6 separate regions of the Homo sapiens genome follow, and regions 1, 2, 4, 5 and 6 are each reported to be linked to region 3. The links are microRNA targets in miRTarBase. Many come from high-throughput screens and were not tested one by one. Region 3 holds a microRNA gene; each other region holds the end of a gene's coding sequence. Distances are between the middles of the regions.

Region 1 (3,000 bases), 200 Mb from region 3:
TTTTTTGAGACAGAGTCTCGTTCTGCTGCCCAAGCTGGAATGCGTACAATCTCGGCTCACTGCAACCTCCACCTCCCAGATTCAAGCGAGTGCCTCAGCCTCCTGAGTAGCTGAGATTATAGGCGCTCACCACCACACCCAGCTATTTTTTTTTTTTTTAGTAGAGACAGGGTTTCACCATGTTGCCCAGGTTGGTCACAAATCCTGGCCTCAAGTGATCGGCCCGCCTAGGCCTCCCAAAGTGCTGGGATTACAGGCGTGAGCCACCGCGCCCAGCTGGCTTCTTCCTTTTCAAAGGCCTCCCTCATCTTGTCAGTCATTTCCTTGCTGACTTCAGTCTGTTCATATTCCCCTTCTATTTGCTTTCTGAAGACATCCAGGGTTTGAACAGGAGAGTCTTAGCCACTAGGAGAAAGGTGATGTGTGCTAAATTTTGCTTTCAGGATCATGGAACTTTGAAGCCGTGAGGGAGGAACTTTCTGTTCCCCTGAAGTTTCTGAACTGCTTCTGCAAGTGTGGTCTGGGAACGGTAACATCATTATCTGGGAGTCTGTTGGAAATGCAAATTCCTGGGTCCCAACTAGAACTACTGAATCAGAATCTGTTGGGAGGAGGGTCCAGCAATCTGTTTTGAAAAGCCCTGCAGCTGATTCTGATGCTTGCCAACATGCAGGAAGCACTGGACTATACCATCTTGTTATTAGACAACTATGCAGGAAAATAGCTGTGTTATCAGACTGTATTCAAAGGCCCTGAAACCTAAATATTTGCTGATTCTGATGCTTGCTAAAGTGCAAGAAGCACTGGGCTATACCATCTTGTTATTAGACAACTATGCAGGAAAATAGCTATGTTATCAGGGCCTGTATTCAAAGGCCCTGAAGCTTAAATATTTTAAAATATTTCTTACAGCTGGACATGGCAGCTCACACCTATATTCCCAGCACTTTGGGAGGCCAAGGTGGAAGGATCACTTGAACCCAGGAGTTGAAGACAAGCCTGGGCAACATATCAAGACCCTCTTTTAAAAAAAAAAAAAAAAAAAAAAAGCCAGGCACGGAGGCTCTCATGCCTATAATCCCAGCACTTTGGGAGGCCACGGCAGGCAGATCATGAGGTCAGGAGTTCAAGACCAGCCTGGTCAACATGGTGAAACCCTGTCTCTACTAAAAATACAAACATTAGCTGGGCATGGTGCTATGTGCCTGGTAATCCCAGCTACTGAGGGGGCTGAGGCAGGAGAATGGCTTGAACTCAGGAGGCAGAGGTTGCAGTGAGCCGAGATTGTGCCACTGCACTCCAGCCTGAGTGACAGAGCAAGACTCTGTCTCAAAAACAAACAAACAAACAAAAAACCCACAAAAAACAGCCGGGCACGGTGGCTCACACCTGTAATCCCAGAACTTTGGGAGGCCGAGGCGGGCGGATCACCTGAGGTCGGGAGTTTGAGACCAGCCTGACCAACATGGAAAAACCCCGTCTCTACTAAAAAAATACAAAATTAGTGGGGCGTGATGGTGCATGCCTGTAATACCAGCTACTCAGGAGGCTGAGGCAGGAGAATTGCTTGAACCTGGGAGGCAGAGGTTGTGGTAAGCCGAGATTGCACTATTACACTCCAGCCTGGGGAACAAGAGTGAAACTCCATCTCAAAAACCAAAACAAAAACTCCACAAAAAAACCAGAAAACTGTAATTCAATAGGTAATGCTGTGTTCCAATAATTTTTTTTTTTTTTTTTGAGACGGAGTCTCGCTCTGTCACCCAGGCTAGAGTGCAGTGGCGCGATCTCGGCTCACTGCAAGCTCTGCCTCCCGGGTTCATGCCATTCTCCTGCCTCAGCCTCCTGAGTAGCTGGGACTACAGGCACCTGCCACCACGCCCGGCTAATTTTTTTTGTATTTTTAGTAGAGAAGGGGTTTCACCGTGTTAGCCAGGATGGTCTCGATCTCCTGACCTCATGATCCACCTGCCTCGGCCTCCCAAAGTGCTGGGATTACAGGCGTGAGCCACCGCGCCCCACCAAGACACATCTTTTAAAAACAGACACATACAGTTAGTGAAGAGACTTAACAAGACCATGATCTTACCATAATATTTTATATTGAATCTAACATGTTACATTTTTTTCCAAATGCTTTTCTTGCCTAACAAAAATGGGGGTGTAACCCCATCACAAGAAAAGACCCATACAGGTGAAACCCCATCTCTACTAAAATACAAAAAATTAGCTGGGAGTGGTGGCGTGCACCTGTAGTCCCAGCTACTCGAGAGGCTGAGGCAGGGGAATCGGTTGAACCTGGGAGGCGGAGGTTGCACTGAGCTGAGATTGCGCCACTGCACTCAAACCTGGCAACAGAGCGAGACTCCATCTCAAAAAAAAAAGAAAAAAAGAAAAAAGAAGACCCATACAATTCTGATGTCCCTGTGCTAATTTTATGCATGGGATGCTATACTTGCCCTAGTTCATTAATTTCCCAAGGAAATTAGCACTTATAACCCACTCCTCTGATTTTACCAAAACAACAAAGAATTATACACACACACACATACACACACACAGTCATGTACATTTACATTTAAAACATTTTATGAGGGATAAAATATAGTCTTTTTCTATCAGTATGTTCACACTTCCTGGCCTCTCATTGGGAAGCTGTAAGATGTCCTTCAATAAGATCCTGAACACGCGACAGAATAATCTCATTAGAGCTGCTGCAATTTTCTGGACCATATGGTGGGTCTATAGTCAGGACCCCAGCCACACAGAGAGTCCTTGGAGCGTCTCCCTGTTCAGTGATGGGGATGTGGTTCTTCTCAAGCCATTTCTTTAGGCTGTTCTTTCTCTCTTCCAGATCCTCTGGGCTGTATGCTTTGCAGTCTCCAGACGTGAACAAATGCATCAGCTTCTCCCTCACTCTATGGTCCCCTTCATTCATAGTTTCAACAGTCTGCACAGCATGTCCCATAATTCCGGTCACAGACATGCTGCCATCTTCAA
Region 2 (5,144 bases), not on the chromosome of region 3:
AGGGGGTGTCCACGCAGCCAGGCTGAGGTGTGGGCCCACCTGCCCGGCTGGCAGCCCCAACCCCGGCCCGTCCCTGTACGGCTGGGTACAGGAAGAGCTCTGTGAGCTCCAGTCCAATGCGGGGCCCTCAGCCTGTCCTGCAGGGAGGTTTGGAGGAAGCCAGGCTTTTAGGCAGAGGCCGGTGGTGTGACCCCCGTGAGAAGTGTGTCAACCCAGGGGGCCTCTGGTGGGGGTGCTTGGACACACAGTGTAGACGCTGAGACTGGCCCACCTAGGGGCTGGGTTTGCGGGGGAGGGGCACTGCCGCCCTCGTGCCAGCATCCCCTTGGGACAGGGCTGCCTTGGTGCCACCTGCAGTTCTGCTGTGTGGCTCTGATAGGAGCTGGGGCTCAAGGTCTGAGCACTCCTGTCTGCGCACCTCCCCCACCAGGAGTCTCTGCCTGTGCAGACACTCGGAGGGCCCGGGAGGCTGTGCCCCCCCAACCCCAACCGGGCCCTGCTCACCCCCGCACCCCCCCCACCCACCAGGCCCTGCTCACCCCCTGGCCCCCCTCCCAACCTCCACCGGGCCCTGCTCACCCCCTGCCCCGCCCCCCCCACCTCCACCAGGCCCTGCTCACCCCCTGCCCCCTCTTCCAACCTCCACCTGGCCCTGCTCACCACCTGCCCCCCCCACCTCCACCAGGCCCTGCTCACCCCCTGCCCCGCCCCCCAACCCACCAGGCCCTGCTCACCCCCTGCCCTGCCTCTGCAGGTCCACAGCAAGGACAAGAAGTATGTGTGCAAGGTGTGCAGCCGCGTCTTCATGTCCGCCGCCAGCGTGGGCATCAGGCATGGCTCCAGGCGCCACGGTGTGTGCACCGACTGTGCTGGCCGCGGCATGGCCGGGCCCCTGGACCATGGCGGCGGAGGCGGCGAGGGCTCTCCAGAGGCGCTGTTCCCAGGCGACGGGCCCTATCTGGAGGACCCTGAGGACCCACGAGGGGAGGCGGAGGAGCTGGGCGAGGACGACGAGGGCCTGGCCCCTGAGGATGCGCTGTTGGCGGACGACAAGGATGAGGAAGACTCGCCGCGGCCGCGCAGCCCCCCAGGAGGCCCTGACAAGGACTTCGCCTGGCTCTCCTAGGCCCGCCCGCCGGCAGGGTCGGTGGCTGCCTCGCTCCGTCCACCCGTGTGTGTGTCCGGTGGGTCTCCACTGCGGGGCCAGGGCCACGCTCACCCCTCTCGCGGCCCCTCCTCTGCTTCCCCCTGAACCCACCCCCCACGGAAACCAGCCCTGCGGGCTAAGCAGGTGCGACCCCAGCAAGAGGGGTGCTCTGGGACCAGACATGAAGTGAGTTGGGGGAGGGCACAGGGTGGGTTTGAGTGAAGGGAGAGCACGGTCCTAAGTCCCCAGCAGGTGGTGCGGGTGTGTGAGTGGCCCCTGTGATGGCCAGCCTGGCTTGGACACGTGATGGGCCTGTGGCCGGGTCCAGTGGGCACTGGGCGGGGTGGTGTGTTCGGCCCAGAGGCCCCTGGCCTGAGCAGGTGCAGAGTTTTACAGACACCCGGTCAGCCCGGCTGGAGCCCGCCCTCCCCTCCCCTAGCAGCCAGGTCACTGCCTGTGGCTGCAGCCGTGGCCCGTGGTGCAGCCGTGGCCCATGGCAGCCTGTAGAATCCAGGTGCACAGAGAGCCCTGCCACCGTCTTACCTCTGGGCTTTGGTGCTTAACACACAACACAGCTGCAGACCCTGCTGGAGGCCGAGGGCTCCAGGTGCTATCTTAGGTGGACACAGCCCTGGGGGCTCCTTCCAGGAGGGGACCCTCAGCCCTGTGCCCCCCACCACTTCAGGCCACACCAGGTTCCCTCTGCAAGGGCCTCGGCTCAGTCGTGTGCACTTCCTCGGAGAGCCTTGGGCTGCCACGTCCACCCCGGGCTCTGCCCGTCCTGTTCTGCCCATGGCCCAGCCCGGCCGCTCCTGCTGACCCCTCCTGGACGGGCTGGAGCTGGGCTCCTGCCTTTGCTGCTAACACTGGAGGCGGTGTTCCTAACTGCAGTGTGCTGCTTACACCTCCCCGCGTGGGTAACCAAATTTTTAAGTAGTCAGAGACATATCGAGGTAGTTACATAAAATTATTTTGTTTGGCATTATTTTTCTCACTCGAAGAAACTATATAGGGTTGTTTTTCCTTTAGCTTGTGCTCAAGTCCTCTTGCTGTGTTTTCAGAAGCACTCACATGTTCTTTCTTTTCCTGAGTGAAAAGCAAAGGTCCCACGGTGTGTGCTGTGGTGCACCGCCTGGCTTTGGGGGTCCCGGAGGCAGGCTGCCTAGACTCACAGCCTCGGGACCGTTGCCACGGCCTGTCTTCTCGTTCAGGCCTGCCTCTGACAGCACTCACCATGAGGACATTCCATCCTTCACCCCCTCCTCTGGCACAGGCCACCACTGCGGTGCTGTGCCTTCAGATGGGAGGTGGGCGCGGTGGCCTCCTCCTTCCCTCCAGGACCTGCCCGTGTGAAGACCCCCCGGAGTGCTGAGCTTCAGGGCTGCGTGGAAAGAGTTTTTACTCTCTTTTTCTAGCCTGTATACCAGGCTTTTCCCCACATTGTCAGGTAGAGCACCAGCTTCCCTGACCGCTGCTGCTCGGGGAGGGCTGGGGCTGGCCGGGGGTCCTGTGGAGGAGTACATGGAGGACTCCAGGTACAGCGCAGGAGTCACGGCTTTTGTTTTTTGACATTGGCCCCCGGTTCTACCAATGACAGGGTGCCCTGGCTGGAGCTGTCATCACACACACCCCTCAGCTCGGAGGCTGTGGGCTCCTCAAAGCTGGAGAAAGAGGCCAAGATTTTTCTGCACACGGAGTGTGGGGATAGGAGCCGGGCCAAGCGCTGGCCCCTCAGCGGTGAGCCCTGCCCACTCTTACCGAGCAAGGTGGGTGGCTCTGGCACGAGTCCCCCAGGGGGAGAGCATGGCTACCAGGGAGCTGCAGCGGAGCCCTCCAGCCCTCACCCCAGGCCAGCCCCACCCCGGCCTCTTTGAGAATTCTCAGAACTTTGTACCTTTCCCCTGATTTTTAAACCCTTTTTCTAAACAGACTGACTTTCTTACAAAATGCATTTGGAAACCAGACCTTTGCTACCCACCAATGTCTCTGGGTTTTGTACCAGTCCCTGCTCTCAGGCCACCCTGCCCAGGACCCAGGCCCGCCTCCCCCTCCACACTCAGGATGTCCTGCTCCATCTGGCCGGCTCACTCCGTGTGGCCTGCCTTTGCTGACCGTTTTGGGGTTCCCCGCCGGAGCTACAGGGGCATTTTCTTCCCTAAAACCAACAGTGTCCCACTGACCTCCCCAAGTGTTTGCTGCGTGGCAGATTTCCTGTTCTTGTTCGCAGTTTGCCGACTGAAGAGTGTGGGATTTCCGAGGCCCAGGTGAGCACGTCCATCTCAGGAGGCGTGGAGGGAAAAGACATGTCATGAAGGGTTTTTTTTATGTGACTGATTTTTTTTTAAATCGATGTTCAAACTAATAAATATTTTTTTATGAAGAGGAAAAATGTGTAGATTACATTTCACATTTTGTATTTTTGTTTGTGTCTGTTTGTATTTTGGTGTTTACAACACCAAAGTGGGAAATACAGTCCATTGGGGATGGTGTTATTTGGGGGCGGGGAGGGGGCAGGGACACCACGATTTTTCTGTCAAGCTCTGGATCCTGACCAGGTTGTACACTGGGGCTCTCTGAGCTTTGGGACACAGGACACTGCCAGGGCTACGTAGGGAACTGACTCAGAAGACGCAGCTTACTGCTTCCAACTTTGCACATCTTCCTCTTTAAAAAACTGAGAAAATGCAAAAACTGGAACTTTTTGCAATATTATAAAAGAAGTAATCTTATTTTAGCTCATTCTGTGACATGTGCGACTCTTAAGAAAGCCATACTTAATGGTGGTGGTTTTTTTTAGATCTTATATTGTGTTTTGTATGCAGCCCTTTTAGAACTACTTGTAGTGAGGGTGCTGTGTGTGCTTTTCTTAAATATTTATTTTTTTCAACATGCTTTCAACCTGTCAACAAAAACAAAACACACAAAAAAAGGGCAGTGTTTGAAGATTGTTGATTTTTTTCTGGGGATAATCTATATTATATTGACTTCCTATTACTTATTATAAACCTGTGTTTGTATTGGAGATGTGTCTACTATTGGGGGAAGAGGTTCTCGTAATCGCTCGGTGGGAAATCATGGCTCTGCCGTCCTGCCTCTCTGTGGCCGTGGGTTCACGTGGCCTCTGCGGTGAGTCTCCAAGTTTCTGCCTAGGCGCCTGTGCGTTTCCTTTCTGTGACGGGATTAGCTTAGACATCCTTGCAAAGCGATCACTTTCAATAAATTGGGAAATTGCTGCTCCAGCAGATGCCTCCTGCGTCTCAGATGATCCTTCCTCCGGCCTCGCCTGGGGTGGCGGCGGCCGACGGGTGACCCTCGGCCCTCTGTGGGCAGCTGCCAGACTCCACCCACTTGCCCACCACAGGGTCCCAGCCCCACGGCCTTCCTCCCGAGAGGCAGACAAAGCTTCTGGAAAAACCTCAAATCTTTAATTTCTCTCTTCGCCTGGTGCAGCCCAGACGTGAGACACCTGAGCTTCAAAAACAAACATGGTAAAAACAGCCCCAGGGCCCGAGAGCCGTTGAGTTAAGTGCGAGTGGGGGAGTCCCCTCTCCAACACCCCTCAAAGTGCATCGGGACTGGCCCCCCAAAGCTGGGCCCATAACACCCTTGATAAATCTACGGGCCGACAGGCGGGAGGGTGGCTGCCCCCAGGGCCCTTGGGGCTAAGGGGACAGCGGTGTGGTTTGGCTTTAGTGCAAAAAGCTGGTTTCTTTAGAGGCACTTTGAGTGGTGGGACCCCTCCCCGACCTGGCGGGGGGGAGGGTTCAGGGTCAGCCCCGCCCCCCCACCCCAAGTAAAAGCAGACCCTGCAGCTGGTGAAAGCCAGCCCCTGGGGCTGTCCTCGGGCTGTTTCAGCCCCGGGCCTGGAGGGGGTGGGGAGGGAGAAGGTGGTAGCTTATGTTCTTGAACGAGCCGGACTTAGTCCAGGAACCGCTGGCAGGCTTTCTTCCAGCGGCAGGCTGTGCACCAGAGGTCCCGGCGCTCCATGCCATACACC
Region 3 (4,847 bases):
TTTGAGACGGAGTCTTGCTCTGTCGCCAGGCTGAAGTACAGTGGCGCAATCTCAGCTCACTGCAACCTCTGCCTCCCAGGTTCAAGCGATTATCCTGCCTGAGCCTCCTGGGTAGCTGGGACTACAGGCACACGCCACCACGCCCAGCTAATTTTTGTATTTTTAGTAGAGATGGGGTTTCACTATGTTGGTCAGAATGGTCTCAATCTCTTGACCTTGTGATCTGCCCACCCTGACCTTCCGAAGTGCTGGGATTACAGCTGTGGGCCTCTGCGCCCGGCCGAGAACTTTAAATACAATATTGATACATACATACAGACGTCTTTAGACTGAAACAAAATCCTAAGAGCATACTTTCTCTTCAAATGCCTGCAGAGCATGTACAAATTATGATTATGTGTACACCAAGTCATACAAAAATATGCACCCCCATTAAAATAATCAAGTGTACTCAAACAATAATTTTCCCATAGCACACTGACAAAAATGAGAGAGACTGAACCTACCCAGTGCTGGTACAGCACAAATGAAAAATATGCATCCTCTTACACTGGAATTAGGAAGATCAGTTGGAACGAGGCTTCTGGAGCAATTTGACAGTCAACCTAATGATGTTTTAAGTGCACGGGCTCACTGACCCAGCTTCCACTTCCTGGAATTTGTCTAGTAGTGATACTTAGAAGTTTACAAAATATATGTATAATAATTGTTTGATGCCAATTTGGAATTGGTATAAACACTGCTACAACCACATAAATATCCATTCGCAAGGTATCAAAAGAGCAAGTTATATTTGCACACATACTGATACCAAAAGATGCTTATAACACATTAAAATGGACAGAATGTAAAACACAGGGCCCTGCCTATAGAATTATACTCTATGAAAATGCTCACACACATCACACTATGTTTAGACACAGAAAAAAGATACACTCTCACCCAACAGCAGCCCAGTGTAGGAGGGAGAGAGCCAGCTCCATTCAATGTCTATTTAGACACTTTGAGCCATAGCGCTTAATTTTGTCTTGGAATGATCATAAACCATTTCTTTACATCAGTCAATACATAAACAATTTAACTCAATAAAACTTTCATATCTAAAAAAACCTGGAATCTTGCCCTCTGGAATTTTCAGACAAAGACGATTCCACCCAGGGAAAGATGTGTGTAAGCGTTCCGGCAATCTCAAAGAGAGTGACCCAGACAGACCCTGAGCCTCTCTGCCTCTGCTCTAAGGAGCAGGACCCAGAGCCAAGGCTAACAGAGCCTCAGGTGCCTGTCCAAGCGTCTGTCCAGTGGCCACCGTCTTCTCTCTCATGTGGACGCAAGACAGAAGTCGATGGCTAAGTGCCCTTGAAGGCCACGGTGCGCTGGAAGTGGCAGGAAGCTGGGCAGCACAGGACTGGCTCTGCAGGAGCCCCACACTCAGGCAGGTCGGCGGCAGGCCTCGAGGTTTCATTATGGTGCACGCTCTCGGTGACTTTCCAAGGACAGAAAGTGTGAAGTCGTAAATGGATGGGCCCATGACATGCTTCTGAAGCTCAGAGCAGGACAAGCTTGCTTCCCAATCATGTGGGTCCCCCACCTACCAGCTCTGTGACCTCAGGCAAATTACTTCTTCCCTCCAGGCCTGAGATGATCTGGGGCTGTACTAAATGCTTGTAAAATGCTTAGTGCAGCCCCTCACAGAGGCCCTCAAACACCAGGAGCAACTGTGGCCACGACCTCAGTGGGAACATGAGCTTCTTCCCAGACAGCCCAGACGCCCAGTTGGAGGAGCACTCCCACCCCTCACACAACCCCTCATGAAACAACAAAGACACTGGGCAAGAAACCAGCTCTCCACATCACAACCTGACCTTTCAACATCACCCTTGTCAAAAAGCATCGAGGAAACCTGTGTGCCTCTCAAGTCAGCCTGCAAACCGGGGTCGCAGACTTGACTCCACATCCTCCCAGGTTTTATCATTCTTCTTTCACCAAGAGGAAGAATAAACCATCCATTTTGCACTTTGTGCTGTCAAAAACCAACAGTGACCACTATCAAGAAAAACAAAAGTCTCAAATCCAGAAAGCAAGCTGCAGTCACAAGAACTTCTACTTTGGGCAAAGAAAGCCCCGCTGTGTGCCCAGAGAAGAAATGACCCGGCCTTACCTGGATGGCTTTGGGAGCTCATTGCTAGCAATGTCCACTCCTTTAAGTGATTCGAAATGGCTCAAAATTTCCACGGAAACGATAGCTCCAACGAGCTCCAAACTCCCACCAACACATACAAGTACCGGGACGGTGAGGGCTGGGTCACAGACGTTCAAGCGCCGAGCCTCGCCGGCAAGGTCTCATGAGCCAGGTAACCCACAAGTTGAACAGAGGCGTCCGCTGGCTTCTGCAGATGAACCTGCAAGGTCAGAAGGAGAAAAGAGACTGGAGTTACAACATGGAAGTTCCGATCTGGAAAACAACATCCAACTAGGGAAATGATGACTTCCTCTTTTTTTTTGGAGACAGAATCTTGCTCTATCGCCCAGGCTGGAGTGTGGTGGCACGATCTGGGCTCACTGCAACCTCCACCACCCCTGCAACCCTGGGTTCGAGCAATTCTCCTGCCTCAGCCTCCCGAGTAGCTGGGAACACAGGTGCATGCCACCAGGCACAGCTAATTTTTGTATTTTTAGTAGAAACGGGGTTTTGCCATGTTGGCCCAGGCTGGTCTCAAACTCCTGACCTCAAGTGATCCACCCACCTCAGCCTCCCAAAGTGCTGGGATTACAGGCTTGAGCCACCACGCCCCACCAACTTCCTTCTTTATCCTTGTTCTGACCAAGGACTGATAGAACAGTTCGACGGAATCATTTCTACAAATACGAGCAGTGGGATTTTTGTTAGTAAATCACAGACATGTAAAAATGTCTCCAGAGAGCAGGGTTTCTCAGCCTCAGTACCACTGGGATTTTGGTTTGCGTATTTAGGTGTTGGGGTGTAGGGCTGCCATACACATTATAAGATATTTAGCAGGATCCTGGGCCTCCACACACCAGATGCCAGCAGCATCTTCCAGGTCATGACAACCAAGAATGTCTCCAGGGAGTGCCAAAGGTCCTCTGGGGGATAATATCATCCCCTGGTTCAAAATATCTGATCTAGAGACACCTTCCTTACCCCTTCCAGAAGTTTCTCCAACATTAGGCTTTTGAAAGGAAGCAGAGTATCTTCCAACTAATATAAATTTATTCTGTCATATTAGCTTATGAAATAAATATGAAATAAAATGTTTTAAAAGAAAAATCACTTTCAGCACATTCCCACCACAAAATGTCATTACTGCACGCTTGCATCAGCCTGGATCCATAGACATTCGTAGTCACAATGTCTGTGTAATCACAGAATTTAATTCTAAAGTCCGCATTCCTCACGTAACATGATAACCTAAAATAGTTCCCTCATGTTTCTGTCTTCATAATGACCATTTTCTCAGGTTTTCATTTTCTGCTTATAAAAGCAATACATGCGCATCACAGGTTAAGTATTTAAAAAGTCATCCATGATGCCATCACACACAGACAAGCCCTTGGTAACATTCTGACATGCTTCCTTGCCGTTGTTTTTCTTTGCCTTTTGCCCATACGAACCTCTAGTGATACAGCTGTCTATCACGTTCTCTGTGCTGATATTACAGCCAGGCATTTTCCAATGGCATTAACAATACCTGGTAAGCTTCGTTTTGAAGGGCTGTTTCCTATTCCATGTGTGGATAGACAGCTGCCCCGCCCCACTTCAGGAGCTTCGGATGAGCCTGCTGCTCCCAGGGAAGTGTCGGGCCAAAGAGTGGCATGTGGCACCAGCTGAGCTCATCAAGTTCTCTTTCCAAGGCCTGCCTCTTCAATAGATCAGTCACTAGATGAACCCAAAAGAGACAAGTCTCAGCACTCCTACCACTGAGAGTCCCTGGCTGATCCCAGCTCAAGTGCTTTCAGAGGCTTCTGTGTTCATCTTTCTTTAAAAGTGTGACCAATTCCTTTTCTTGATTTAATTAGTCTAGAAATTTTTTTTTTTTTTTTTTTTTTTTTTTTGCCAATTGCTTATAACCAAAGAACTCTAACCAGTTCATCATGTAAAGAATCACCCCCGCCCCCAAGGCTGGCTATCTAGATGCTTTCCAACTTTATGTTCATTGTATCTACAACTCTGATTAATATCTTCATGACTGTTGTTCTGTATCTGGTTATCTCCTTAGGAATGACAATGACTTATTTGTCTTCAGGGTCAGAATGTTTATTCATCTCTTGGTCAGAAAGAGACATTTTCTTGAAGGGAATGTAGATGGCATATTTTTCAAACCCTCACAAATCTCAGATGACAGTATCCTTCACACAAAAAAACACATCTCAGCTGGGTATAAAAATCTTAGATCACAAATATGCCCCCCTCAAAATTTTTGGATGTCATTCCCCCCTCAACATTGTAGGGAAGTTTAAGTCCAGCTCAATTACAGCTTCTTTCCAGGTAAAACTTTGGGGGCCGAGTCTTGATGTTGTGGTTGTTACCATTTTCTTCTGCCTGGAATCTACTGGCATTTTTTTCTTGAATCTTAAAATTCAAAAACGTTGTCAGAAGATACATAAGTAAGAGTCTTTTATTTTGTTCAAAACATGACTCTTTCAACAAATATAGGTCTTCTTTCTGCTCAGGAAAATGTTCTTCAATTATGTCACTGATTATTATTTTTGTTAAACTTGTTCTGGCTTCTTCAGAGTTCCTATGCTATTTGGCTGAAGTCTCCCCATCAGATCTGGCCTCTTTCACCGGTGACACATCTGTTGTTTATTCTGCATTCCCAGGCAGCCTC
Region 4 (4,459 bases), not on the chromosome of region 3:
TTCAATTACAGATTTAGACTTGGTTCTTTTTTTTTTTTTTTTTTTTTTGAGACCTAGTTTCACTCTTGTCTCCCAGGCTGGAGTACAGTGGCGCAATCTCAGCTCACTGCAACCTCCACCTCCTGGGTTCAAATGATTCTCCTGCCTCAGCCTCCCAAGTAGCTGGGATTACGGGTGCCCACCACCACACCCAGCTAATTTTTGTATTTTTAGCAGAGACGAGGTTTCACCACGTTGGCCAGGCTGGTCTTAAACTCCTGACCTCAGGTGACCTGCCTGCCTCAGCCTCCAAAAGTGCTGAGATTACAGGCGTGAGCCACCATGCCCAGCCTAGACTTGGTTCTTTTGGTTTTATGGTAAAGTAGAACCTTGAAGGAAGTTCCATCTGATTAATGACTAGTTAAATGTTTTATCTATCCTACTTCCAATTCCACAAAGGCAAATGGATATGTCACCTAGGAAGTTTAATAATTTGCCCATTTCTGATTGTTTTACTGGAAACAAATTAGACGTATACCCTTAGTATTTGAAATTAATGATAGCGGCCAGGCATGGTGGCTCACACCTGTAATCCCAGCACTTTGGGAGGCCAAGGCAGGTGGATCACCTGAGGTCAGGAGTTCGAAACCAGCATGGCCAACATGGCGAAACCCCATCTCTACTAAAAATACAAAAATTAGTCGGGCGTGGTGGCACACACCTGTACTCCCGGCTACTCGGGAGGCTGAGGCAGGGGAATCACTTGAGCCCAGGAGGCAGAGGTCGCAGTGAGCCAAGATTGTGCCACTGCACTCCAGCCTTGGTGACAGAGCCAGACTTTAAGACTCACAAAAAGGAGAAAAGAAAAAAGGATAGGCCAGGCGCGGTGGCTCACGCCTGTAATCCCAGCACTTTGGGAGGCCGAGGTGGGTGGATCATGAGGTCAGGAGATCGAGACCATCCTGGCTAACAAGGTGAAACCCCGTCTCTACTAAAAATACAAAAAATTAGCCGGGCGCGGTGGCGGGCGCCTGTAGTCCCAGCTACTGGGGAGGCTGAGGCAGGAGAATGGCGTGAACCCGGGAAGCGGAGCTTGCAGTGAGCCGAGATTGCGCCACTGCAGTCCGCAGTCCGGCCTGGGCGACAGAGCGAGACTCCGTCTCAAAAAAAAAAAAAAAAAAAATTAAAAAAAAAAAAAAAAGAAAAAAGGATAACATTTACTATGTTGACAGGAAATCAGAGATCATTATTTGAATAGTGGAAATGAATCAAAGACATATCAGGGCCGGGCACGGTGGCTCACGCCTGTAATCTCAGCACTTTGGGAGGCTGAGACAGGCGGATTACTTGAGGTCAGGAGTTCGAGATCAGCCTAGCCAACATGGTGAAACCCCATCTCTACTAAAAATGCAAAAATTAGCCAGACCTGTTATCTCAGCTACTCAGGAGGCTGAGATGGGGGAATTGCTTGAGCCAGGGAGGTGGAAGTTGCAGTGAGCCGAGATCGTGCCACTGCATTCCAACCTAGGCAACAGAGCAAGACTCCATCTCAAAACAAAACAAAAAAAAAGGACGTGTCAGGCAGCTAAAATATTAATAAATGATCTTTTGGAAATTTAACCCATTTCAATTTTTGTCAGCTGTTAAATAGACCACTCTGGGTAAGAAAGGATTAATGATGATGTACTATGAAAATAATTACTGAGAAATTAAGCCAAAAATAAAATTCTCTCCAGGCATCGCCGAATGGAGGCTGTGCGACTGCGAAAAGAGAACCAGATCTACAGTGCTGATGAGAAGAGAGCCCTTGCATCCTTTAACCAAGAAGAGAGACGAAAGAGAGAGAACAAGATTCTGGCCAGTTTTCGAGAAATGGTTTACAGAAAGACCAAAGGGAAGGATGACAAATAAAGATTTTCTGATTGTCCAGAAGACATTTTTAACAACAAAAAAGAAAGTCTGGGTTCCACACATACATAGAAAAAGATTATTATGTTCTGAGAAAGCTTTACAGTGCTACTGTGCCTTCTATTTAATTCTTTCAGTCCTTCAATAAAAAGCTGCTTATTGATATAACTTTAGCAAGTTCTTTGGGTTATTTTGGATTGACCATAGTAACTTTCTGGTTTAAAAATCCAAATTATGGGCTGGGCACGGTTGCTCACGCCTGTAATCCCAGCACTTTGGGAGGCTGAGGCGGGTGGATCACTTGAGGCCAGGAGTTCGAGACCAGCCTGGCCAACATGGTGAAACCCTGTCCCTACTGAAAATACAAAATCAGCCAGGAGTGGTGGCGCACACCTGTAGTCCCAGCTACTCGAGAGGAAGAGGCAGGAGAATTGCTTGAACCTAGGAGGTGGAGGTTGCAGTGAGCCGAGATTGTGCCACTGCACTCCAGCCTGGGCGACAAAGCAAGACTGTGTCTCAGAAAAAAATAAAAGGCCAGGCACGGTGGCTCACGCCTGTAATCCCAGCACTTTGGGAGGCCAAGGCGGGTGGATCACCTGAGGTCAGGAGTCGAGACCAGCCTGGCCAACATGGTGAAACCCTGTCTCTACCAAAAAATACAAAAATTAGCCGGGCGTGGTGGTGGGCGCCTGTAATCCCAACTACTCGGGAGGCTGAGGCAGGAGAATTGCTTGAATCCAGGAGGCGGAGGTTGCAGTGAGCCGAGATTGTGACATTGCACTCCAGCCTGGGCAAGAAGAGTGAAACTCTGTCTCAAAAAAAAAAAATCCAAATTATGAATAAAATGCTACTGTATTGGAGGAGGTGGCTTGAACAAAAAGTGTTAGTGAGATGAGAAACTTCAATCTCACACCATGAGACAGTGCTACTATTAGCTCTATGTGATGCCTGCCCCACCCCGACCTCTACCCCAGCTGAACTTTTGGGAAATTATCACTCCTCTGTGTTGAATGTGTTATAAATGGACTTGATAGGAACATATAGGAGGCCACTTTTGTTAACAAAATGAAGGCATTGCTGCGAAAAGCAAATCTGGAATTTGAAAACTGACTTGTGTACTATAATATATGATCTACCCTGGAAATAATGGGTTTTGATTTAAGTCCCTACCTCCACTCTAAAACCAACAAACAAACCAAAAAGCAAACTAACCCACAGATTTGTTGAATTGAAAATGTGAACATTAGATATTTTAAATTGTTTTTTTTGAGATGGAATCTCGCTCTTGTTGCCCAGGCTGGAGTACAATGGGGTGATCTCGGCTCACCACAACCTCCACCTCCTAAGTTCAAGCAGTTCTCCTGCCTCAGCCTCCTGAGTAGCTGGGATTACAGGCATGTGCCACCATGCCTGGCTAATTTTGTATTTTTAGTAGAGATGGGGTTTCTCCATGTTGGTCAGGCTGGTCTCGAACTCCCAACCCCAGGTGATCCGCCCGCCTTGGCCTCCCAAAGTGCTGGGATTACAGGCATGAGCCACTGCGTCCAGCCTAAATTCTTAATAAGTTACTTAAAAATAGTTATTTGAAATATAAAGTCTTAAGAAGTCTACTCTTATCCCCATGTAAATACTTTATTTCAATCTGAGCTGATATGAGCTTGAGGATAGGATAACATCCAAAAGAATAGGAGTCAACTATGGTCAAGAGTTTTGATAAGGAAAAATATAATGAGTCAGTATTTTAGCTTAATTGTTTCATAAGAGAAACTAAAATGATATTAAATATTTTTAACTGTCTTTCATATACTAAGTAGATTTCATTTTAAACACTTAAACCTTTCTGTTTGTTTTTAAGTTGGGGAGAAATGGAAAATTGTGGGACTATGATATCGTGGTCTTGTTCCTTTGTTTATTTCGTTCAATTTTAATTAGGTCAGAAGAGTGAATGGGGGAGGGAACCCAGGAAGTTTTGGCTGTTTTCATTAAGGTTGGTTTTCTGTTTTTTGTTTTTTGAGATAGAGTCTCACTCTGTCACTCAGGCTGGAGCCCAGTGGTGTGATCTCGGCTCACTGTAACCTCTGCCTCCTGGGTTCAAGTGATCCTCCCACCTCAGCCTCCCAAGTAGCTGGGATTACAGGCACTCACCACCACAACTGGCTAATTTTTGTATTTTCAATAGAGATGGGGTTTCGCCATCTTGGCCAGGCTGGTCTCGAACTCCTGACCTCAAGTGATCTGCCCGCCTCAGCCTCCTGAAATGCTGGGATTACAGGTGTGAGCAACCGTGCCTGGCCGTTTTTGTTAAGGTTATTTGATCTGCATTATTATTACATGCCTATGATAAATTTAAATTACCTGAGTGATAAGGACATTCTGATTATACTATTGTAAAATGCCCGCTTGCCTTATATTTTTAAGTGGTTGTTTTTCAAAAGTGTTTAAATAAGGCAGTCATATTTCAAAGTATAGAGCAAAAGTTTTTTTATTATTATTTTTGAGACAGGGTCTCCCTCTGTCACCCAGGCTAGAGTTCAGTGGTGCAATCTCGGCTCACTGCAACCTCCACCTCCTG
Region 5 (4,846 bases), not on the chromosome of region 3:
AGATCTGTCTGGCATAGATATTTTATTCTTGTTTTATTTTCCCCCTCTCGCCTTCGCGCCAGTCATCATGCTACTACCCTTTCTTTGATACACCTGCCGTTTCATTTTTTGGTAGATCGTTCCATTCTGCATCTTTTGTGGTTTTTTGGGTGGAGGGGGGTGGTTTGAGACAGGGTGTTGCTCTGTCGCCCAGGCTGGAGTATGGAGGCACAAATACAGCTCACTGCAGCCTCAACCTCCTGGGCTCAAGCTCCGTACCTGTAGCTAGGACTACAAGTACATGCCACCATGTCTGGCTAATGTCTTTGATTTTGTGTAGAGGCAGAGTCTCACTGTGTTGCCCAGGCTGGTCTCAAACTCCTGAGGCTCAAGCAATCCTCTGGCCTCAGCCCCCCAAAGTGCTGGGATTATAGGTATAAGCCACCAAGCCCAGCCTTTTTTTTTTTTTCATTTGACAGCATGTCTTGGAAATGCATGTGTGTGTGCATGTGTAATATTTCGTGGCATGTCAGTCCCATCATTTGTTTATCCCGCCCTGGTTGAGGGACATGTAGGTGTTTATATTCGGGCCAGACTTCAAGCCCATGACACTCTGATTTGGAGCCCAGCTGAGGAGCCAGACCCAGACAGAAGCAAGGGCTTGCCTAGGCCTCACAGAACAGAGGCAACAGCAGACTCTGTCCTGAGGCCCAGGGCTCCTGGCCAGAGGGGCCAATCGCTGTTAACCCTACCCTCCCTGGTGCCTCCCCACAGGGGCAGCCACACCACAGTGGGCGTCGGCGGACGGCTTGAGGGGTTGACCCAGGACCTCCGACAGCTGCAGGAGAGCGAGCAGCAGCTGGACCACCTGATGAATATCTGTACTACGCAGCTGCGCCTGCTCTCCGAGGACACTGACAGCCAGCGATATCCTTGGATTGGCCGTAGGGTGTGGAAGGCAGGCTTAGCAGGCAGGGGCTCCACCCAAGTGGGACTAGAGAGGCTTGGATTTAAGAGAGAGCTCTGATTTTGGTTGCAAGTCCTGGCTCAGCATTTTCTCACTGTTGTGACACTGGATAAATTGCTTAACCTCTTGGCCTCAGTTTTATCTATAAAAGGGGAATAATAATATCCAATTCTGAAATTGTACAGATTAAAAAAGAAAAGTGGCTAGGTGCGGTGGTTCATGCCTGTAATCCTAGTGCTTCAAGAGGCTGAGGTGGGAGGATCACTTGAGCCCAGGAGTTTGAGGCTGCAGTGAGCTCTGGTTGAGCCACATCACTCCAGCCTGGGTGACATAGCGAGACCCTGCCTCTAAAAAATAAATTCCCAGCACCAGGCCTGGAGTTGTGTTGAACATTTTACATGGAATCGTTCCCGGTAGCCATTATTACCTTGGGATTCAATGGGTAGAGTGATTTCATTATACAGATGTGGAACTTGAAACTCAGGCGTGAGGTAGGTTTTGAGTGGGTAGGAGGTTGGGAGGACAGGAGTGACTAGGCAGGTGTGAGCCCTGCCTTGTGAGCTGTTGGAGTGAGTGACCCCCTAGAAGTCAAAGGTCATGTGGTCCTTGACTCTGCCAACCCTGGCCTACGTGACGTGTCAGGACCTTCGTAGCATTGCAGACCCTGCAGAGCAGATGGTTATGGTGATCAAAGCCCCTCCTGAGACCCAGCTCCAAGCCGTGGACTCTTCGGAGGTGAGATCTGGGAACTCCGGGCCCAACTGGGCTGGGCTGGGCTGGGCTGGTGGTCACCTGGGCCTCAGTTTACCCTGCCTGCTGCTTCCACCCAGAACTTTCAGATCTCCCTTAAGAGCAAACAAGGCCCGATCGATGTTTTCCTGTGCCCTGAGGAGACCGTAGGTGGGATCAGCCCTGGGAAGACCCCATCCCAGGAGGTCACTTCTGAGGAGGAGAACAGGGCCACTGACTCTGCCACCATAGTGTCACCACCACCATCATCTCCCCCCTCATCCCTCACCACAGATCCCAGCCAGTCTCTACTCAGCCTGGAGCAAGGTGGGTGATGGGTAGGTGGGTGGGGTGGGGCAGGGCCCCTCTTCTGGGGGGTGGGCAGGCACGACAGCCCCTGCCTTCCTCCCTGCTGGGGCATCCCCGGCCTGTGATGCTCCCCGTCTCCCCAGAACCGCTGTTGTCCCGGATGGGCAGCCTGCGGGCTCCCGTGGACGAGGACCGCCTGTCCCCGCTGGTGGCGGCCGACTCGCTCCTGGAGCATGTGCGGGAGGACTTCTCCGGCCTCCTCCCTGAGGAGTTCATCAGCCTTTCCCCACCCCACGAGGCCCTCGACTACCACTTCGGCCTCGAGGAGGGCGAGGGCATCAGAGACCTCTTCGACTGTGACTTTGGGGACCTCACCCCCCTGGATTTCTGACAGGGCTTGGAGGGACCAGGGTTTCCAGAGATGCTCACCTTGTCTCTGCAGCCCTGGAGCCCCCTGTCCCTGGCCGTCCTCCCAGCCTGTTTGGAAACATTTAATTTATACCCCTCTCCTCTGTCTCCAGAAGCTTCTAGCTCTGGGGTCTGGCTACCGCTAGGAGGCTGAGCAAGCCAGGAAGGGAAGGAGTCTGTGTGGTGTGTATGTGCATGCAGCCTACACCCACACGTGTGTACCGGGGGTGAATGTGTGTGAGCATGTGTGTGTGCATGTACCGGGGAATGAAGGTGAACATACACCTCTGTGTGTGCACTGCAGACACGCCCCAGTGTGTCCACATGTGTGTGCATGAGTCCATGTGTGCGCGTGGGGGGGCTCTAACTGCACTTTCGGCCCTTTTGCTCTGGGGGTCCCACAAGGCCCAGGGCAGTGCCTGCTCCCAGAATCTGGTGCTCTGACCAGGCCAGGTGGGGAGGCTTTGGCTGGCTGGGCGTGTAGGACGGTGAGAGCACTTCTGTCTTAAAGGTTTTTTCTGATTGAAGCTTTAATGGAGCGTTATTTATTTATCGAGGCCTCTTTGGTGAGCCTGGGGAATCAGCAAAGGGGAGGAGGGGTGTGGGGTTGATACCCCAACTCCCTCTACCCTTGAGCAAGGGCAGGGGTCCCTGAGCTGTTCTTCTGCCCCATACTGAAGGAACTGAGGCCTGGGTGATTTATTTATTGGGAAAGTGAGGGAGGGAGACAGACTGACTGACAGCCATGGGTGGTCAGATGGTGGGGTGGGCCCTCTCCAGGGGGCCAGTTCAGGGCCCCAGCTGCCCCCCAGGATGGATATGAGATGGGAGAGGTGAGTGGGGGACCTTCACTGATGTGGGCAGGAGGGGTGGTGAAGGCCTCCCCCAGCCCAGACCCTGTGGTCCCTCCTGCAGTGTCTGAAGCGCCTGCCTCCCCACTGCTCTGCCCCACCCTCCAATCTGCACTTTGATTTGCTTCCTAACAGCTCTGTTCCCTCCTGCTTTGGTTTTAATAAATATTTTGATGACGTTTGGGCCGGGTTTTGGGACTCTGTTGGGAACATTTCGGGGCGGGAGAGGCCAAGGTTGCTGGGGAAATGCCCATTCTCCACTTCCCTTCTCCCTGTCCGTGCCCGATTTGATTTGAGCCTCATAACTCGAAGAAAGGTCAGCTTCCTCGCTGTTTTGGTCCTAACTCAAAAGCAGATCCAGTAAAGGTTTTTGTTGTAGAAAGCCAAGAATGCTATTCAGTGCTGCCCGAAGTGCAGAGTAATGAGTGGCCTCTCCTTTCCCCAGCCCCAGAGGCCACTCTGCTCAGTTTGCTGTCTTCCTTCCAGACGTTTCTGGACATTAGTAAACATGTAACAAATACAGTGGGCTGGTTCTGTGTCAGGTATTTAACAGTTCTGGGGACACGGGTGTTACCTCCTTTCATGGTGCTCTCAGGGTCTGAAAGAGGAGATCTGCATAAATGAGAAAATCGGGAAAGGCGTTCTGGAATGGGTGGTGCTTAAGCTGAGCGCTGTAAAATAAGTAGGAGTTAACCAGAGGAAGAAAACACCAAGCAGAGGACACGATGGGCAAAGGCCTTGGGCAGGAGGGAGCGGGATAGAGGACCGGAGAGAAAGCAGTGTGGCTGCGGTCCTGAGGTGAGGGTCAGAGTGGTGCTCCTGGAGTGGGGCGTTCAGTCTTAAGCTTTATTCAGGGGCCAAGGAGTCACTGGAGACCGAAGTGACACCTCCTCTTTCGCATCTTAAAAGCTCCCCCCGGCTGCTGTGTGGAGAACGGGTTGAAGGGAGGGCCAGAGTCACGGAGGGGAGGGGAAAGGGCTGCGCTTAGTGCCAGAGAGGGCGGGCGTCGGGATGCCTGGGATTCGGCCGCACGGACCTGTGGGCTTCCTCTGCGCCAGCCCCCGTTGTAAGCACTTGACATTGAATGAGTCCCAACAATTGCATAGGGTGTCTGCCAGTACCATTTTTGTAGATGAGGATACAGACGCCCCAAAAGGTGAAGTCCTGGTGGGTTTTACCCACTTGTGTCACCCTGACCTCGGCACTGGCTTGGTCATCCTGTCCCTCTGGGTAGGCCCGCAGCCCCTAGGTTCTGCTCCCGACAGGCCGTCGCGGGACCGGAGCCCTCGGGCGCCTCCCCCTCCGCCGTGGCCGCGGAAGCGCGGAGGCCCGCGGCGCTGGAGTTGGACCTTGAGGCGAGGGAACCCGGCGTCCGCGGGGGCGGGGCGGGGGCGGGGCCTGAGCCCGCGCGTCGGCGCCGGCGCCAAGGGGCGGCCTCTAGCCACACCGAGTCCGCCGCGGCGTCCAGGGTCGGCAGCAACCGCAGCCGAGCCCGAGCGGGTGGCGGCGCCATGGCGTGCGCGGGGCTGCTCACCGTGTGCCTGCTCCGGCCGCCCGCGCCCCAGCCCCAGCCCCAGACCCCGCGGCACCCCCAGCTCGCGCC
Region 6 (4,840 bases), not on the chromosome of region 3:
CCTCGCCTAATCCCCACCCCCCGACAGGCCCCAGTGTGTGATGCTTCCCTCCTTATGTCTGTGTGTTCTCATTGTTCAAATCCCACTTACGAGTGAGAACATGCAGTGTTTGGTTTTCTGTTCATGTGATAGTTTGCTGAGAATTATTGTTTCCAGCTTCATCCATGTCCCTGCAAAGGACATGAACTCATCCTTTTTTATGGCTGCGGAGTATTCCATGGTGTATATGTGCCACATTTTCTTTATCCAGTCTGTTATTGATGGACATTTAGGTTGGTTCCAAGTCTTTGCTATTGTGAATAGTGCCTCAATAAACATACATGTGCATGTGTCTTTATAGTAGAATGATTTATAATCCTTCGGGTATATATCCTGTAATGGGATTACTGGGTCAAATGGTATTTCTAGTTCTAGATCCTTGAGGAATCATCACACTGTCTTCCACAATGGTTGAACTAATTTACACTCCCGCCAACAATGTAAAAGCACTGGACTTTTTTTTTTTTAAGTTAAAAGATCACACACAGGGTGTGATTTCTATACCAAAGATATGCTTATTTCAGTATGAGGAAAAATATTTTTCTTACATGTCCTGAAAATTGCAATTTTAAAAATGTACAAAATAAATTTTTATTAAAAGCAAATTTTATTTCAAAAAAAAAGAGTGAAAGACAACCAACTGGATAGGAGAAAGTATTTGAAAGTCATATATCTGATAAGGGATTAATATCCAAGAATATAAAGAACTCTTACAACTCAACAACAACAACAAAATAACCTTATTAAAAATTGGGTAGAGTGCTTGAATAGACATTTCTTCGAAGATATACAAATACCCAATAAGCACATGAAAAGATGCTTGACATCATCAGTAATCAGAGAAATGTGAATCAAAACCACAATGAGATACCACTTCACACCTGCTAGGATGGGTAGAATAAAAAAGATAATAGGTATCGGAGGTGGAACAATTGGGGCCCTTATATACTGCTCATGGGAGTATAAATGGTACAGTCACTTTGGAAAACAGTCTGGCAGATCCTCAAACAATTAAACATAGAGTTATTATATGACCCAGCAAGTCTACTCTTAGGTATTACCAAAGAGAAATGAAAACACAAAAGTTTGTACATGAATGTTTATAGCAGCATTATTCATAATAGCCAAAAGATGGAAACAACCCAAATGTTCATCAACTGACAAATAGATAAATTATGGTGTATCTATGCAGTGGAATATTATTCAGCCATAAAAGGGAATGATGTACTGATATGTGCTGTAACATGGATGAACACTGAAAACATGCTACATGAAAGAAGTCAGTCACAAAAGACCACATATTACATGATTTCATTCATCTGAAATGTCCAGAAGAGGAAAATCTATACAAGCAAAGTAGATTAGTGGTTGCCCAGGACAGAAGGCTTAGGAGGTGATGACTGATAGGTAAGGGGTATGTTTTGTTGTTGTTGTTGTTGTTTTTAGGTGATGAAAATGTTCTGAAATTGCCTGTGGTGATGGTTGCACATGTCTGTGAATATGCTAACAACTATTGAATTCTACACTTTAAATGTGCGAATTATATAATACGTGAACTACATCTCAAGAATGTTTTAAAACTGGTGTTGGGAAAACAGGACATCCACATGTAAAACAATGTATGTCAGATCCTTACCATACACCATGTACAACAATTAACTCAAAATGGATTAAAGACCTAAATATAAGAGCCAAAACTACAAAAACTCTTAGAAGAAAACATAGCAGTAAATATTCGTAAGTTTGAATGTGGCAATGGTTTCTTAGATATGACACAAAAAACACAAAAGAAAAAAGATAAATTGGACTTCACAAATTAAAAGCTTTTGTGATTCAATGGACACCATCAAGAAAGTGAAAAGAATGGAATACCGATACATTTTACACATCAATGTACCTTGAAAACATTATGCTAAGTGAAAGAATCCAGACACACAAGGACACATATTGAATGAATCAATTTATATGAAATGGCCGTATAGGCAAATCCGTAGAGATAGGAAATAAAATTAGTGTTTGCCAGGGGCTGTGAGTAGAGAGGAAATGGGGAGTGTTGCTAATGGACATGGGATTTCTTTTTGGAGTAATGAAAATGTTTTGCAACTACATAGTCATTATGGTTGCACATCCTTGTGAATGTACTAAAAAGTACTGAACTGGATACCTTAAAAGGCTGAATTTTTTTCATTTCTTCTAAAAAAAACCAGGATAGATGTGCAGAACGTGCAGGTTTGTTACGTAGGTACATGTGTGCTATGGTGGTTTGCTGCATCTATTGACCCATCCTTTAAGTTTCCTCCCCTCACCCCTCACCCCCCAGCAGGCTCCGGTGTGTGATGTTCCCCTCCCTGTGTCCATGTGTTCTCATTGTTCAACTCCCATTTATGAACAAGAACATGCAGCATTTGGTTCTCTGTTCCTGTGTTAGTCTGCTGAGGATGATGGTTTCCAGCTTCATTCATATCCCTGCAAAGGACATGATCTCATTCCTTTGTATGGCTGCATAGTATTCCATGGTGTATATGTACCACATTTTCTTTCTCCAGTCTATCATTGATGGGCATTTGGGTTGGTTCCAAGTCTTTGCTATTGTAAATAGTGCTGCAGTAAACATACGTGTGCATGTGTCTTTATAGTAGAATGATTTATATTCCTCTGGGTATGTACCCAGTAATGGGGTTGCTGGGTCAAATGGTATTTCTGGTTCTAGATCCTCGAGGAATCGCCATACTGTCTTCCACAATAGTTGAACTAATTCACATTCCCACCAACAGTGTAAAAGCGTTCCTATTTCCCCACAGCCTCACCAGCATCTATTGTTTCCTGAGTTTTTAATAATTGCTATTCTGACTGGTGTGAGATGGTATCTCATTGTGGTTTTGATTTGCATTTCTCTGATGATCTGTGATGTTGAGCTTTTTTTCATATGTTTGTTGGCCGCATAAATGTCTTCTTTTGAGAAATGTCTATTCATATCCTTTGCCCACTTTTTGATGGGGTTGTTTTTTTCTTGTAAATTGTTTAAGTTCCTTGTAGATTCTGGATATTAGACCTTTGTCAGATGGGTAGATTGCAAAATGTTTTCTCCCATTCTGTAGGTTAAAAGGCTGAATTTTATAGCATGTGAATTATATCCCAATTTAAAAAAGAATGCATATGTCTTAGTTCAGGCTTCCATAACATAATACCATAGACTGGGTGGTCTAATTGTTCAAAGCTCCACAGAAATTAGTTGGAGAAGTTACAAGAGTCCATTAATCATCTTGCTTTGTTAGTAGCAGCGGGCATGGTTCAGCATTTTCTGCTTAAGTTTCTCTGAGCTCACCAAAACTAAAATGATGTTGTAATACTTTTTTTTTTTAATTGCACATCACTCCTTTATTATACTGATCTGGTAAAAGGATTTAGTACAGTTATGCTCAGATGAACACTGGGCCCATGTGGCAGGGTCAAGCAACTAGAACATGATTCAGAAATCAGTGAAAGACACACTTGGACAGGACCAAGAGGCATTTCACTGCCATGAAACAAGGCAGGAAGGGATTCTAATACACACACCAGGAAGCACTCCTGCCCCTCAGAGGTCAAGGAGCTGATCCTATATTGGTATGAGGAATGGCTTATTTTCTGATGACCACATGTGGGACTATTTCAACCGCCACAAGAAACCCCAGAAGGGTTATTGTTTTGTATTATTAATATATACTATACTTTTTTAATAAAAGTAAATATAACACATAACGAAATTCAGGATTGATCCCAACCTAGAGCCAGATCCTCTGGGGTCAAGGAGGAAACAGTTGTCACATCACCATGCAGATTACATTCATCTTCCACTGGAATGACTAGAGCCCCCAGGCAGTGGCCTGACTGCAGAAGAGCAGAGGACAGACTCTGCTCATGGGGACAGACAGGCTCTGTTGCTTCTCCTCATTGGTCGTGGCTTAGCATGTTCCTCCCCAAAGTCCTTAGTAAACAAAGCACTCACAAAAACCCAAGTCACTACTTTTAAACTCTGTTGGATAAGGGGAGCTTTTCCACAGCTTAGACTGAGAACCTGTGCTCTAGAACTGCTATTCTGACTAGATTGTATGAAGGGAGTGGGTGCAGGCGACAAAATGGCTAAAATGAAAATGGGAGCCACTGGTCCCCATCTGCAGCTACAACTCAAGATGTCTACAGATGTGGTCAGTGTGACATGTGCAGGTGGGAGGGGCAGAGGGACAAGACCAGCAGGGAGGGTGCTCCTGGGGACAGTATCCTCCCCGCTGGCCTTCACTTCTTGGCCTTGCCCTGGGCAGCCACAGCTTCTATGGCTTTGCACACCGTCTCTTCATCCCCCAGAAACTGCATGGGCTTGATAGGCTTCAAGTTCTTGTCCAATTCATAGACGATGGGAATACCAGTCGGCAGGTTCAGCTCCATGATAGCCTCTTCAGAGAGACCCTCCACATGCTTGGCAATGCCCTGGAGGCTGTTGCCATGGGCTGCAATCAGTACACGTTTCCCCTCCTTGATCTGGGGAACTATTTCTTCATTCCAGAAGGGCAGAGCTCTGGCAATAGTATCCTTCGGACTCTCATAGGAGGGTAGCTGATCTTCTGTGAGGTCTGCATACCTGCGATCCTTACTGATGTTGCTGTAGAAAGGATGGTCGGGCTCCATCGGAGGTGGTGGGACATCATAGGAGCGCCTCCAGATCTTCACCTGGGCCTCACCATGCTTTGCAGCAGTTTCTGCTTTATTGAGACCGGTTAGACCCCCATAGTGCCGCTCATTGAGGCGCCAAGTCCTCACCACT

The links. Region 3 holds the annotated microRNA hsa-miR-2467-3p (AGCAGAGGCAGAGAGGCUCAGG, at 1,213-1,234, opposite strand). A microRNA usually pairs through its seed, bases 2 to 8, with sites in the 3' UTR of a target mRNA and lowers its output. Matches are read on the target gene's strand: a 7mer-m8 pairs with bases 2 to 8, a 7mer-A1 pairs with bases 2 to 7 and ends in A, and an 8mer does both.
Region 1: the mRNA of GEMIN6 is a reported target of hsa-miR-2467-3p. Seed matches in the 3' UTR shown: 7mer-m8 at 1,581-1,587 and 7mer-m8 at 1,262-1,268.
Region 2: the mRNA of ZBTB46 is a reported target of hsa-miR-2467-3p. Seed matches in the 3' UTR shown: 7mer-m8 at 1,236-1,242, 8mer at 1,847-1,854 and 7mer-m8 at 4,266-4,272.
Region 4: the mRNA of NKAP is a reported target of hsa-miR-2467-3p. Seed matches in the 3' UTR shown: 7mer-m8 at 3,963-3,969.
Region 5: the mRNA of E2F1 is a reported target of hsa-miR-2467-3p. Seed matches in the 3' UTR shown: 7mer-A1 at 2,419-2,425.
Region 6: the mRNA of PGAM4 is a reported target of hsa-miR-2467-3p. Seed matches in the 3' UTR shown: 7mer-m8 at 4,255-4,261 and 7mer-m8 at 3,920-3,926.

The regions. Positions count from the first base shown.
Region 1 is chr2:38,781,537-38,784,536 of GRCh38, reverse strand. GEMIN6 (gem nuclear organelle associated protein 6) reads right to left here. Exons shown (of 3, transcript NM_024775.10): 3 at 1-3,000. The coding sequence ends at 2,645. Among named protein-coding and RNA genes, the nearest start is that of GEMIN6, 4.8 kb to the right of the region's middle.
Region 2 is chr20:63,742,912-63,748,055 of GRCh38, reverse strand. ZBTB46 (zinc finger and BTB domain containing 46) reads left to right here. Exons shown (of 5, transcript NM_001369741.1): 5 at 755-4,386. The coding sequence ends at 1,126. It overlaps ZBTB46-AS2 (ZBTB46 antisense RNA 2), which reads right to left and starts at 4,231. Exons shown (of 3, transcript NR_186425.1): 1 at 3,328-4,231; 2 at 2,381-2,528; 3 at 2,105-2,233. SLC2A4RG (SLC2A4 regulator) reads right to left here. Exons shown (of 8, transcript NM_020062.4): 8 at 4,006-5,144. The coding sequence ends at 5,066.
Region 3 is chr2:239,350,520-239,355,366 of GRCh38, forward strand. It overlaps MIR2467 (microRNA 2467), which reads right to left and starts at 1,285; the gene lies at 1,205-1,285. It overlaps HDAC4 (histone deacetylase 4), which reads right to left. Exons shown (of 27, transcript NM_001378414.1): 2 at 2,159-2,399. The coding sequence starts at 2,180. RefSeq lists a silencer at 1,948-2,141.
Region 4 is chrX:119,922,651-119,927,109 of GRCh38, reverse strand. NKAP (NFKB activating protein) reads left to right here. Exons shown (of 9, transcript NM_024528.4): 9 at 1,716-4,459. The coding sequence ends at 1,890. Among named protein-coding and RNA genes, the nearest start is that of NKAP, 19 kb to the left of the region's middle.
Region 5 is chr20:33,674,261-33,679,106 of GRCh38, reverse strand. E2F1 (E2F transcription factor 1) reads left to right here. Exons shown (of 7, transcript NM_005225.3): 4 at 754-906; 5 at 1,567-1,681; 6 at 1,777-2,002; 7 at 2,128-3,630. The coding sequence ends at 2,375. It overlaps NECAB3 (N-terminal EF-hand calcium binding protein 3), which reads left to right and starts at 4,679. Exons shown (of 12, transcript NM_031232.4): 1 at 4,679-4,846. The coding sequence starts at 4,755. RefSeq lists enhancers at 3,652-4,152, 4,823-4,846 and a silencer at 4,339-4,846.
Region 6 is chrX:77,964,560-77,969,399 of GRCh38, forward strand. PGAM4 (phosphoglycerate mutase family member 4) reads right to left here. Exons shown (of 1, transcript NM_001029891.3): 1 at 3,390-4,840. The coding sequence ends at 4,315. The region is part of intron 1 of ATP7A (ATPase copper transporting alpha); the gene reads left to right. It also overlaps the pseudogene C4orf46P2. Among named protein-coding and RNA genes, the nearest start is that of PGAM4, 2.7 kb to the right of the region's middle.